2 linked regions of the Homo sapiens genome follow. The protein of the gene in region 1 interacts with the protein of each later gene in a pairwise test. Each region holds a gene or a part of one and is shown on either strand. Other genes may lie near its edges.

Region 1 (3,750 bases):
AAATTTACACATACCTGTTTATCATTTTGGAGGACGCAATTCTCTAAAATGCACACTGGAAAGTACAAAGTGCATGGAGTGCACATGCACTTTGAAAGGTTGCATCCTATGTTGCACAATGAAAAACCCTATAATTTCATTCAGAGTAGACCTGCATAGTTTCCAATGATGTTGTTATCACCCAAGATATTTCTGAAAGTTCTTTTGGGAACTTCCTTCATATTCAATTTGCAGGTCACTCAAGAAAGTAGGTTTGTCCCCTTATTATTAGACATCATTTTGGGTTTAAAACCGTATTTCCGGGCTTGATCATCCACCTTGTTTACCAGCTTTGTTTCAAATGACTCTTGGCAATTTCCAGAATTGATCCTAAAATGGATAAAATCCCTATCTGTAATCAAGGTATTTGAGACAAATATGTATGACAAGTTCTCATGAGTTTCAAAGTATGTGGAACAATGACAGTATTGTAGGAATGTGTATATAAGTTCCAAAAATACTTGACTTTTAAATAATATCCATTTTGCAGGAGTCCTGAATAGCCTCACGTAACACTTCACTGAAAGTCTGCTATCCAGAGATGTGTCAAAAGCAGTAACTGTGCTTGGCTGAGTTTGTAATAATCAAAGTGTTAATCAGCTGTCCCCAAGCTTCCTAGCTACTGATACGAAATCTAAAAAGATGGGCTGGGTGCAGTGGCTCACACCTGTAATCCCAGCACTTTGGAAGGCCAAGGCAGGAGGACCGCTAAGAGTCCAGGAGTAAGACCAGCCTGGGCAACATAGTAAGACCCTGTCTCTAATGTTAATAATTTTAAAAAAATTTAAAGAAAGGAATCCAAAAAGAAGATAAAGGTCTTTCATATTCCTTTCCACTTCCAGTGTTTTATTGCAATGTTTCCCACCTCCAATTTCTACCTGTGCTTCCCCACCTCTGTTCCTCTCTATCCCCAACTCTTCTAATTGCCTTTTCTTGTCTTCATTCCCAGGGAGGGATGATCATCATTCTCTTGTGCAGTGTGGCCGTCACAGTTCTCTCTGCCATCAATGTGGGGAAGAGCATCATGTTTGCCATGACACCACTCTTGATTGCCACCTCCTCCCTGATGCCTTTTATTGGCTTTCTGCTGGGTTATGTTCTCTCTGCTCTCTTCTGCCTCAATGGACGGTAGGTATTTTTTTTTTTTTTAAGAAAGGGTCTCACTCTGTTGCCCAGGCTGGAGGGGAGTAGCACATTCTCAGCTCACTGCAGCCTCAACCTCCAGGGTTTAACTGATCCTCCTGCCTCAGCCCCCCAAGTAACTGGGACTATAGGCACAAGCCACCATGACCAGCTGATTTAACTTTTCTGGAGACAGGGTTTTACCATGTTGCCCAGGCTAGTTTTGAACTAATGAGCTCAAGTGATCCACCTGCCTCAGCCTTCCAAAGTGCTAGGATTACAGGTGTGAGCCACTGCATGCCTGGAGATAGGTATTATTTTAGGTCCCACTGTCCCATGGGCTTCATTCTTGTCCTAGTCTTTCAGGAAACGAATAAGAAGCTAGGAACCTGAAATCTGGGCAAGACACTTTCCTGGCAATATGTTCAGATGCACTAACTGGACAAGAGACTTTAGACTTGAAAAAAATTGAATGAAGGTATTGAACGGGTTAAAAATCCAGACACCAAAGGTATCCAAACACCAGCAGCAATAGCAAAGTACCCCTGTCCAGGGTCTAGATTCCATCTGCTGCGAAACTCTTTGGTAGCAGCACTGGGACAAAGTTGCTCCCTCCAGTTCCCTCTGAGTGTATGTGGGGTTTTCTTCACCGGCACAGGTGCAGACGCACTGTCAGCATGGAGACTGGATGCCAAAATGTCCAACTCTGTTCCACCATCCTCAATGTGGCCTTTCCACCTGAAGTCATTGGACCACTTTTCTTCTTTCCCCTCCTCTACATGATTTTCCAGCTTGGAGAAGGGCTTCTCCTCATTGCCATATTTTGGTGCTATGAGAAATTCAAGACTCCCAAGGGTGAGTACTGAAATTATCCCCACTTCAAGTTCTGCTCCAATATTAGACCTGAGCCTGCCAACAAGCAAGTTTCTAGCAGGGACTTTTTGGATAGGGCTTTAACTCTTATCAAGTCACTAAGAACCAGGTAGCCCCAAGAAGCACCCAAGAAGCATTAAAGATCCAAGACTACTTCCATCAACTGCACTCCATTTCTTCCTTCTAGCTGGGAGAATGAAATTGCAGATGCAGTTTACCTCATAAAACTGAAGCAATTTGGGCTGCTTTGTCTCAGTGGGGAGACATCATAGGACAAAACTGCCTTGGACAACTGAGGTTATTAGTTGTGTGAAAGGCCTCTATTCGCAAGAGTTGGGGAAGTTTCCATTTCTCAGGACTAGGTTCTCATTTCCTGGAACCAGATCAGAGCCACAGCACCACTGGCACCTCCGTATGAGGAAAAACATATGAAAGCAATGCACCCTAATATAACCCAGAATAAAGAAAAAAAAAAAAGATTCCTCAACTCTAGTTACGCAGTAAAGGAAACTTAAGCATACGGTTGTTAAACAGTAACTACCTCCACAATAAACTTAATATGATTTATACTTTACTCTGATCACTATGGGGTTAACATAGCATCTCTTCTCTAAAATGCTCAGAGTATTACCTTTCAAAATAAAATTGAACCTCAAGACAGACCAGAGAACAGAGTGCCTTCCTCAAAGTGCACTTTAACACCAATTTTAAAAAAAAAAAAAAAAAAAAAAAAAAACAGGACATTCAAACCCACTTTATAACACATTTCATTATAACTCTCAACATTAGTATATTCTTCCTAAGTACCTACCCAAATCCTTCAACTGTCCCTTCATGTCCATGAATTGAAGTCCCCTTCAAAACCTTTCTAGACCCTAGGGACTGTGATTTACACCCTAGGAGAAATACACAACTTTCCCTATTGGAATTTGTTACATTATACTAGCAAGCAAATGCCGATTCTCTCTCCCTTTGCAATTAGCTAAGATGTAATTAGGTTGCCAAGCAGCCAACACGAAACAAGTACAGGCTGACCATACACTAGAACCATTTTAGAAGCTTTGGTTCAAAGCTACAGTAGAGTTGTGAGAAAGAATCTACTCTGATGCTTATCTGAGAGGAACGCAAGAGATTTGCTGCCCTCTTACAAAAAGTGCACAGAAGTTTCTAGACCAACCAAATTCCCAGATTTGAGGTTTTAGTACCAGAAAGACCTGAAGTGACCTCAAAGGACAATACTCTATGGATCTTTAGCTCTCAAGACTTGAAAAGAACTTTCCTCACAGTGTATCTCAGAAGACCCCAGTGGAAACACTAAATCAAAGCAACGTATTTCTTTGGACCTAATGGCCCCAAGAAGCTATTCTCAGGGGGGAGGAATCTGTCAAGTTTTTATACTTTTCATTCCTGCACCTGATGGGAGAACAACTCTGTATAGAGAACTCTCCCATCTGTATAGAAAGGTGCAGGAATCAAAGCTATCTTCAAATTTGCATCACCGCCTACACCACGGACAAGAAGAGGTAGATCAATTGGGGGTTGGAGGGAAGAACTGGAAACTCTCTTGGTTAGACTTTCTCGAAGATCTTTCCTGCCTGCCTCCTCATTCCCTGAATGCAACACAGACCTTGCATACATAAACTCATCTCCTGTTGTTTTACTGTATAACGAAGTTAGAAGTGAAGTGATGATGAAGACACAATAGTCTAATTCATT
Region 2 (3,750 bases), about 47 Mb from region 1:
GGGTGGAGGGTAGGAGTCATGACTCCTGTGTCCCACCAGGGACAGCTGCTCCTATGATCTGGGCTCAGGGTATGCTCCAAAAATGAGAACCTTCCTGACCGCAGGGCCCAGCTGGCTCCCCTGACTTCTATGCTGGCAGTGAGGAAAGAGGCCCTGGAGTCAGTCATTGCAGAGCTGGGCCCCAGGCATTTGAGTGAAAATGGAGAGGATTGATCCTTAGGGTTCCTAGAATTTTCTTACCTTCTGTGTGGTATAAAAATCAAGAGTGCAGTGGTTGGGAGATGAACAGGAAGAGGGCAGGAGGTAGAGGGCCAAGCAAAGGGCTCCACAGGGAGGAGTGGGATGAGGTGAGCATAGACTGAGATGGGCAGAGGCGGGGCTCAGGCTCGCAGCTAATTTGCAAAATTTTGAGATGTATGATTCCTTTATTTTTGACCTCAACTTACTGAGCAATGCCGTAGCTATGGAATAGAAGCATTTGTTGCACTCTTTTTGTGAGCCAGGCCCTGTAGGAGGGATTGTGGATGGCAAAACCTCAGGTTCTGCCCAAATCCTCCCCTTGGGGGCTGGAGGGTCTCTAGTTAATTGGCATTCCGGTGCTTAAGGCCACTTTTGGGTAGAGGTTTGGCAAGGATGGAGTGTCCAGACCTATGATCCTCTAAGAACTTTACTTTTTAAAAACAGCCACCCAAATGGTGGTGGCGTGGGGAGCAGGTGGTGGTGAAGGGACTGGGGTGTCTGGCCATGGCCACGTACAGAGGAGACTCTGTGAGCCCTCTCCCTGCCTGAGGGACACTTAACTTTATAGCAGCTACATAGGGTCAACGGGAGGCCCACCAAGTCCCTGAAATCCAGGGACAGGGAAGGAAGTGGTGGAGGGGAGGCTGACCCACCTCTAAAAGGTTGTGCCACTATGAGTAGAGCCCCCAGGGGAGAGGCCTCAGTAGAGCCCCCAGGTCCCCTCAGGTAAGCAGTGGCTCATCCTCTGCCTCAGCTACCCACACCCCCGGCTCAGCCAGTGGCACCAGTAGCACATCGTCCTCATCTTCCAGGGCCAGGACTGCTGTGTGGGGTCCAGGGGGGCTCCGGGTTGGTCCTGGGGGCCCCAGGCTGGGCAACAGGCGGCCTCGCAGGGCCTGCACCACTCCAGACAATAGTGATGGCTCTAGGGGCAGTGAGGGCAGTGGCCCTGGGGCTTCAGGGACAGTAGTGGGGGCTGGAGACGTGCTAGCAGATGGGAGGGGAGCCTTGATGGGCAGTGGGGGTGCCTGCTCCCCATCTTGCCCACCCACTGCCCCGCCCTCACGGGCTGGACCTGTGCCACCATCTAGGGCCTCAAGGGGAGCAGCAGAAGGTGTGACCTGGGATCTGGCCTCAGAGGCCCGAGCCGGGGTGTTGGTTCGAGGGAGCAAGCCCCAGCGGCGGAGACGGCGTACCAGGCGTCGCATCAAGCGGCCCCGCTGACGACGGCGGGCACCTGGGCCACCTCCTGGAGTCATATCCTGGCGTAAGATCTGTAGCAGAGAACGCAGGTTGCCCAGCACTGAGTTCTGCAAGGAAATGAGGAGGCCTCAGAGTCAGAGGGCCAAAGGCTGAATGAAGGAGGGTACAGGGGCGGGGCCACAGCAGAACTGGGACCAGGAGGTGCTAGGGTTGTGGGGAGTGACTTACATCATTAGGATTCTCTGTAGGAAAGTCTTCTACAGGTGGGATGGCACCCTGGGCAATGAGCTGCCCGTAGGAAGGGGGTGCCTGCTGCTGCACAATCTCAGCCTCCATCCGGGAGAGGGGGGCAAAGATGCTAGAAGGAATGAGGACTGCTCAGTCACTGGTAGTTCTCGGCCAGAGTAGACCACCTCAGCCTGGACAGTCCTCCCACTTCCACACCCGGGCCAGGCCAGCTGGAGCTGTGCCATGGCTTTCCCAAAGGTCATCTGAGGTCCCTCCTCCCTTGAAACTGCTTTCAGGATCTGGACCTGTCCCTTACAGGACACAACTGACAAGCTGATCATGGGAGCCTCTCCCCAAGGTGGGCACTTTCGTGGTCTCCTGTAGCTGCACAGCCCAGCCTCACCCTCAGGGTCTACTCTTCTACTGCCAGCCCCACTCCCACTGACCTGTACTCCTGGGTGCGAATGGCATAGAGCTTGCAGGTGCAGCCCAGGGCGATGACCAGGAGCAGGCCGCACACTAGGCTGCCAATGACTGCAGCTGTAATGACCTTGCGGGGCAGAACATAGGAGCAGTCCCACTCATCACTGCCGTCCGCACAGTCTGGCTGCCCATCGCACACCCACGTCTCATACACGCACTTCTCGTCCCGGCATCGGAAATTGCCAGGCTGGCAATGCCGACAGCGTCTCTCATCTGCTCCATCAGCACAGAAAGTCTGGTAGTTGCAGCGGTCAGCAGGCAGGTAGCAGGCTGTGGCACCAGAGGTGCCAGCAGCCCCACAGGGGAAGTGTCCAGGTGGGCAGCCTGGGCAGTCCTCCTCATCTGTGCCGTCAGCACAGTCCCATGAGCCGTCACAGCGCTGTGCCTCACTGTAGCAGCGCTCACCTAGGCCTTCGCCAGCTCCCAGGCCAGAGCCTAAGCCACAGGGTCTGTCCCAAGGCAAGCAATAGCCCCGCACATGGTAGGTGGCATTGAAGCCACGACCATTGCTCCAAGCAACTGTGTGGTAGGACACAACAGCCTGGCCAGACAGTGTCTCCACAGTGACAGCCTTGCCATTGCTGAAGTGGGTGAGACTACGCAGTAGTCGGGAGCTCTCAGGGGGCCCAGGGCCGTCATACACATGCACTGCATCTCCAAAGCCCAAGTCCAGGGCTGTGAAGCGCACGGCCAGCCGCCGGCCATCATGGGGGTCCAGCAGCCAATGGCAGGACTGGGGGTGGGAGACTGAGGCTAGGTGTGTATATCCAGGAGAGGAGAAGACCCCATAGAAGTCCTCCAAGGTGACATTGCAAGGCAGGGAGGGGACGGGTCTTGGGGTCAGGCCAGGGAAGGGGTCTGAGCTGCAACCTGCTTCATCAGAGCCATCGCCACAGGCATCAACCCCATCACAGCGCTGGACAGCAGATACACAGCGGTGGTTCAGGCACTGAAACTCTTCCTGCAGGCACATCAGCCAATCTGCAGAGGCACCATGGAGAGGGGCTGTGAAGCACCAGAACCCTCAGGATCCTCCCCTTCTGCCTGGGGCTTTCACTGCCTGCTCCTCAGACATCCCTGTCCAGCCTACCTTGGCTGTAGGAGAGCAGGAAGCCCTGGCCCATGGGTGCTCTGGCCCCAGCATAGCTGTAAGTGATGGTGACGTTGCCCCCGGGCAGCTGCAGAGGGCTGGGAGGTGCCTCACACAGGGAGATCAGTGGCTGGAGAGGGGAGCGTAGGGTTAAGCGCTCTGAGCCACAGGCCAGGTGTAGCTTCTGGAACCTATGGGAGTAGAGGAGAGCAGGACATGAGATACTCTTGACTGCTGCTGGCTTTCTCCTCCCCTGGTGCCACCAGGCCCCTTGTGTCCCAGGAAGCATAAACATCTGCTTATCCATGATCTAAATGGCCAAATGAAAACTCAGTTAGCCTATTTATTTATTTATTTAGAGACAGAGTTTCACTCTTGTCACCCAGGCTGGAGTGCAATGGTGTGATCTTGGATCACTGCAACCTCCACCTCTTGGGTTCAAGTGAGTCTCCTGCCTCAGCCTCCCAAGTAGCTAGGATTACAGGTGCCCGCCACCACACCTGGCT

Evidence for each region. Proteins that work in one complex are often made in the same cells at the same time.
Region 2: the proteins of SLC10A1 (region 1) and LRP10 interact in binary tests that used the Homo sapiens proteins (3 or more experiments, as listed by UniProt).

The regions. Positions count from the first base shown.
Region 1 is NC_000014.9:69,776,599-69,780,348, reverse strand, and holds part of SLC10A1 (hepatic sodium/bile acid cotransporter), read left to right. Parts: intron 1-988; coding exon 989-1,167; intron 1,168-1,819; coding exon 1,820-2,016; intron 2,017-3,750. UniProt on the Homo sapiens protein: As a major transporter of conjugated bile salts from plasma into the hepatocyte, it plays a key role in the enterohepatic circulation of bile salts necessary for the solubilization and absorption of dietary fat and fat-soluble vitamins.
Region 2 is NC_000014.9:22,874,740-22,878,489, reverse strand, and holds part of LRP10 (low-density lipoprotein receptor-related protein 10 isoform 1 precursor), read right to left. Parts: intron 3,436-3,750; coding exon 3,245-3,435; intron 3,160-3,244; coding exon of another isoform or gene 3,136-3,159; coding exon 2,118-3,135; intron 1,802-2,117; coding exon 1,672-1,801; intron 1,551-1,671; coding exon 963-1,550; 3' UTR 1-962. UniProt on the Homo sapiens protein: Probable receptor, which is involved in the internalization of lipophilic molecules and/or signal transduction. May be involved in the uptake of lipoprotein APOE in liver.